Regions from separate parts of the Homo sapiens genome. Here region 1 is linked to region 2. Evidence: fine-mapped expression QTL. Tissue or cell type: fibroblasts. Region 2 holds a variant in brackets; the other region holds the start of a gene. All regions are shown on one strand. Distances are from middle to middle.

Region 1 (2,904 bases), 67 kb before region 2:
ACACCATCCTTTTACAACTGCCTACAGTATTTAGTAGTTATACTGTACAGGTCTGTAGACTAGGAGTAACAGGCTATCCCATACGGCCCAGCTGTGTAGGTTTGTGCAAGTACACTATGATGTTCACACAACCACGAAACGGCCCAACCATTTCTCATAACTATACCAGTTCTTAAGGGGAGCATGGCTGTATTAAGCCACCACCTTTTTTGTTGTTGTTGTGGTCGTTGTTGAGACGGAGTCTCACTCTGTAGCCCAACCTGGAGTGCAGTGGGCGATCTTGGCTCACTGCAACCTCTGCCGCCAGGGCTCAAGCGATTCTCGGGCCTCAGCCTCCCGAATAGCTGGGATTACAGGCGCGTGCCACCACGCCCAGCTAATTTTTTGTATTTTAGTAGAGAAGGGGTTTCACCATGTTGCCCAGGGTGGTCTCGAACTCCTGAGCTCAGGAGATCTGCCCGCCTCGACCTCCCAAAGTGCTGGGATTACAGGCGTGAGCCACCGCGCCCGGCCTAAATTATCACCTTTTAAGACCAGCATCCCTGGCAACCCCCCAAGTCTCAGCTCCTAGTAACAGAAAGACCCCTTCCACAGAAGCTGAAGGGTGGACCCAATGAATTGGTGTGAGAAACTCCATGCCACTTTACCAGCGCACTCTTCGCTGAAGTTTATGCGACTGTCATAGTGGGGACCGAAGCTGTTCAAAAGGAAGTAGATTATCCTTCCCCTACGTACGTGGGAAGGGGGAGGCTCTGGGTTATCAAGAGGGTGAAGTGGGAGAGCCAAGCGGCCCACCCACAGGCGGATTCCAGGGCGGCTGGACGCACAGCCCCCAGCAGCCGGAGCCCAACAGCTGAGGTCGCCGCCCCTAGACAGCCCGCGCTCCAGCCAGCTCAGGGACCCAGCGGCTAAGCCTTCTGTCCTCCCAGCTTCCCACGCAAGTTCCGCCAGGCCAGAGGGAACGAACGACGAGACCCTGCAGCTTTGGTGGCTGAGAACCTCACCTCACCGCGCTACCGCGCAGCTTCTTACCGCGCACGAATCCCCCAGAGCAGCCGAGTTGGCGAGCCGGGGAAGACCGCCCTCCTGCGGTATTGGAGACCGGAAGCACATAGTGCCCGAGAGCGCGTCACTTCCGGCGTCACAGACGGTCTTTACAAGCGACTCGTGGGCGTCAATACTGGGCTGAGTTTGTGGCGCGCTTAGTGATGGGATGGCCCTGTGCAGGACGCCGACACGAAAAGATGAAGAGTTCAATCCGTGCTGTCTGAACTCACAGTGTAGCAGGCGAGATAGACGGGAAGATCGGTAGGGTGGGAGATGCCGGAAAGGCTTCCCGTGAGACTGGATAAGAAATCAAAAATCTGGTGAAATTGCCGGCAAGAGGGAGTTAAGGACATTCCAGGCAGAGGCAAGGTAAAGGCGCGGTGGGAGTGGGTCACTGTGATAAAAGTCTGAAAAGGACATTTGGGGGCTCTCTTGGGTGAGAGGCAGTGCCTCATGTCCCCCCTTCAGTGCTCGTTGAGCATTCAATTAAAATGTTAACACTTTGTAGCCAAACAAGTTCTCTTTTTAAGAGGAAAACCCTGGATTTCCAAACGGCTCATTTTCTGTAGCTTCTTGCAAATGGATACCACCACCAGCTGTGCCTAGTGAAAAAATGCAATTTACCAGGACCACTACTCTCAACAGTTTGCTCAATCCATTTAACCTTTTGAATATTTGTCCACTTCTTTTTATCTCTGTTGGCACCTCCTCCCTTGTCCCATATTGTACCTGTAGTTCTACAACTGGTCTGGGGATTCATTCTGCCCCAACTCCCTGAAATCCATTTTCCGTGTCGTAGGAACGGAACTTTTGAAAATGTAAATCATTACATTTAAAGCAGTACTGCTGTACTGCTTTAAACTCTCCCTTCGCTTCCCATTGTTTTAGGATGAAATTCGAACTCCTTATGAAGTCCCTGCCTACTTCCCTAGCCTCACCTTGCTCAGTCTCTCCTTTGAGCTCCGTGCATAGGATCATTTTTTCAATTTCTCAAATGCCGTGTGTACCTTGCCATCTCCAGGCCTTTACATTTGCTAGTCTCTTTGTATGGTACTCCTTTTCTTCTTCCAGTTACTTTCTACTCACCCTTCAAGGCTTTAAGTATTTTATTCTCAAGAAAGCCTTCCAGCCCCCTACCCCCATACTAGACCAATCCCCTACTGTGTGCTCACGGCAGTCTATACTTTCTTATGACACGGTTCACATTTGTAATTACACAATAATTGTGTAAGTTTATTGTATCCTCATTGCCTGGTACATCCTTGGTGCTCACTGCGTATTTGTTTTTTTGTTTTGTTTTGTTTTGTTTTTTGAGAAGGAGTTTGGCTCTTGTCGCCCAGGCTGGAGTGCAATGGCGCGATCTCGGCTCACTGCAACCTCTGCGTCCCGGGTTCAAGCGATTCTTCTGCCTCAGCCGCCCAAGTAGCTGAGATTACAGGCGCCCGCCACCGCGCCCGGCTAGATTTTGTATTTTTAGTAGTGATGGGATATCGCCATGTTGGCCAGGTTGGTCTCAAACTCCTGAGTTAGGCGATCCGCCCACCTCTTCCCTCCAAAGTGCTGGGATTACAGGCGTGAGCCACCGCGCCTGGCCCTCGTATTTGTTAAGTAAATGAAGAATAAGTACTTTGCGATGTTTGTTTAAAGCAAACTAGAAAGTGGCCCAGTTTTCTTTAAGAGAAGGGATTTTAAAGTCAGTGCTTGTAGGAATGTTGAGATTTGGTATGGTACATATCACAAATACCGTAGTTCATATGGTGGAGAAAGTTTTAAAAGACAACAAACAAACAACAGCAACTTCCAGCTCTTGAAGATAGGGAACTTCCTAAAAGATGTGTGGTAGTGCTGCCCATACTG
Region 2 (2,904 bases):
CAGACAGAGCCAAAAGCAATAATATCCTGTTTGTTCCTACACTGCCCTCCGCATTAAAAAAACAACGACAGCTACATCAAGCCCTTTTGTTAAGTGGCCACAAGCTGTACATTTCTTGGTCCCAGGCAGGTATACTGGGAGTTCAGATCCTGGTCTTAATGCTCTTCTCTGGTTCTGTGACATCCTAGAATGTGAAGAGGAGGCCTTGGGTTCTGTCACTGCCTCCAGCCCGAGCCCCCTGCTCTTCCTGGGCATCCCGGATGGACCATGTCTGCCTTTCTGCTGACTCAGATTTATTTCTGGTCCAGCCATTCACAGCGTCCATGTGTCTGAACTCCTCAGCCAGAGGGCAGGTGGAAGGGCAGGAGGAGGACCACGTGTCAGCTTTCCATCCAGAGAGCCACCCCAAAACAGAGGATGTCCTTGGGCTTGGACCAGCTCCACAGAACACTCTGAACAAATTCTCACGATGCCAGGCTCCTAGGCCGCAGAAAATGCCTGTCTCCTCCCAGTTCTAAGATAGCAAAGGGTGTGCGTTACCTCAAAACCACTTAGTACGCAGCCAACCTTAATGGGCACTCTTGGCATTACTGTTCTACTCAGCAAATAGACAGTCCTAGGCAGGAAGGAGATATTTAGAATCCTACTCTGTAAAACAGAGGCCTTTCCTAGGCCTCCTGTGATGAAGGCATGGGACCGTTACCAGACTTTGTCCCTCAAGGGTAAATTGTTTTCAAGAAAACAGGAAGCTAGGAGCCATCTAGTCCTTTGAAGTGCTGTGAAGTGGGCTGCCTTCTTCCCCGCCCAAGGGAGGGAGTCTCTGAGGCTTCCTGGCAAGGGTTAGTGTGACCTCCAGCAGTCACCTTCAGCATGGGTTGCTGCTGGATTCCTGGCTCTGTGGGCAGGAGCTCCCAGAATGCTTGACACAGACTCTACGTGGCTTCCTTTGGGAAGACAAATGGAGCCTGCTGTAGGCTATGGCAGAGATGGAGGCCCAGGGCCTCTGAGCTAGGGGCAAAGTCAGTCTCCCTCCTGTGTCTGAAACCCCAGGACTCCCCATTCTGTATGGTACTCCCCCCGACCCAACCCACAGTTTCCTTAGGAAAACTGACCTGCCTA[T/C]GGCCCATTTCCTAATGATATGATTTGGTCATGAGGCTGGCAGAGTCCATGGGGTGCATGTGGCACTCCTGTGCTTTGCTGTGACAGTGCCTTAACCCACAGGCGTGATTAACTCCAAAGTCTGGGGTCTTTGGAAAAGGTGCCTATCAATGCAGAGGAAGTGAAGTGCTCAGACCGCCAAACAAGGCCAAGAGCCTCCCGGAAGAGCCTGCCTGTCAGGAAGTCTCTGGCCACATGCTGTGGCCATGCTCGCCTCTATGAGAGGACAGAGAGAACAGACCAAGGACACGAGTTCAGAACAGAGAAAATGTGAGAGCCGTAGACAGGAAAAGCAGCCCTTCTGGAAACAGCACACTGGTGTACCTAGCGTAACCTTGTCCTGAGGGCCACTAACTGCCCCTCACTTGACTCAGCTGACACTGTGAGGGGTCACGAGCCTGGCAACACTTTCTGGAAGGTCTAAAGGGCAGCACTGAGGAGACCTAAAGGTTTTGGTCTGTTTGTCAAATGTCACTCTTCCTCACATTCGGAGGAGAGCATTTGAAGGCAGACCACTCTAGGGGCAAGAACAGGACTGATTTTAACCCCGGGACAACCAACCAAGCAAGCAAGCTAGTGAAGAACAGGCCTCTGCCCAGGTGAAACACGTGGGGCCAATTCCATAGGTTTTTTTTTTTTTTTTTTTTTTTTTAATTAACCTCCGGTGGGAAAGGTAAGGATGGTGGGGAGGGGAGACGGTTACTTGTCTCATTATCAATGTGTTAGTATTAGTGACGGCAAAACTGAATCTCTAGCAATACTATTTGCCCGTTTAAACTGGGCCTGGCTATTGGGCTTATGAGCAAATAGCTTCTCAAAATTTTAATTTTCTAGTTAGTTCATCCCAAGTCACTGATTTACATGTCTTTTGAGACTGAGACTGCTGGGGAAAAACATTCCCAGAAATGAGTGGATTAGACTCTGTGAATTACAAGGGAAAGACACTTTAAGTTTAAAGTTGTCCCAAACTTAGCGTCAAAATACAGCCTTTAGATTTTTTTTTCCATCGAGAAAAATTCCTGATTCACTACCAAAAAGAGGCCCTGCAGGCAGCGTGCTGATTTGTTCTGCTCCTGGTGCTGAGCTGCCCCCACCTGTGTGCAGGGAGGAGGGGTCGCTTCGGCCAAGGGCGGGAGCTCTGCTGGCTTTAGCGAGTCACCATTGCCTCCTCGCAGTCAGCGTCCTAACGGGGTCCCCGTCTACAGCCCGGCATCCACTCCTCCAAGGCCCTTCACACTGGCTCTAGCCATGACCCCTCTTTGGAGGAATAAAGCAGAGTTTCACGGACTCACCGACCTTGAAGCCGGAGCCTCCCACGTCCTGCTGAGCGCACACAGCCAAGAAGTGTATGCAGGGCGAGCTGGTCGGGCCGGCCTGGAAATCCTCCCTGGCGGGGCGGGGCCAGAGGACCTCACCAATCCCAGCGTAGACCTCCGGGCGCACCGGCCCCCACAGCTGTACCCTTGAAGGCAGGCCCGTGGGCGCTGGGCCCTTTATAGCACCTGCCCTTTCTCTGAAACGTAAAAGGCGGAGCCAGTCTTGCTTCCCAGGCCTGGTCCTGGAGGCTCCTTTGCCAGGGCTCTGGATCTCAGAATGGAAGGGCCAGCAGGTGAAATTGCACATCTGTTGGGGGATTTGTTTCTCTCTTCTCTCAGGTGTACCAGCCTTGGGGCCCTGGTGAGCTCTGGAGGATGAACCCCTCAAGCCAAGGTCGGAGAGGAGGATGTCTCAAGCTGCCTGGCTCCA

Evidence for each region.
Region 1: it holds the start of CKMT2-AS1, and the variant in region 2 is fine-mapped to the expression of CKMT2-AS1 in fibroblasts (GTEx, PIP above 0.99).

The regions. Positions count from the first base shown.
Region 1 is chr5:81,299,799-81,302,702 of GRCh38, reverse strand. CKMT2-AS1 (CKMT2 antisense RNA 1) reads left to right here and starts at 1,134. Exons shown (of 2, transcript NR_034123.1): 1 at 1,134-1,416. ZCCHC9 (zinc finger CCHC-type containing 9) reads right to left here and starts at 1,116. Exons shown (of 6, transcript NM_001131035.2): 1 at 1,005-1,116. RefSeq lists enhancers at 1-597, 605-784, 935-1,034, 598-1,387.
Region 2 is chr5:81,232,928-81,235,831 of GRCh38, reverse strand. CKMT2 (creatine kinase, mitochondrial 2) reads right to left here and starts at 2,510. Exons shown (of 10, transcript NM_001099735.2): 1 at 2,455-2,510. The variant T/C (reference allele first, on the strand shown) is at 1,120.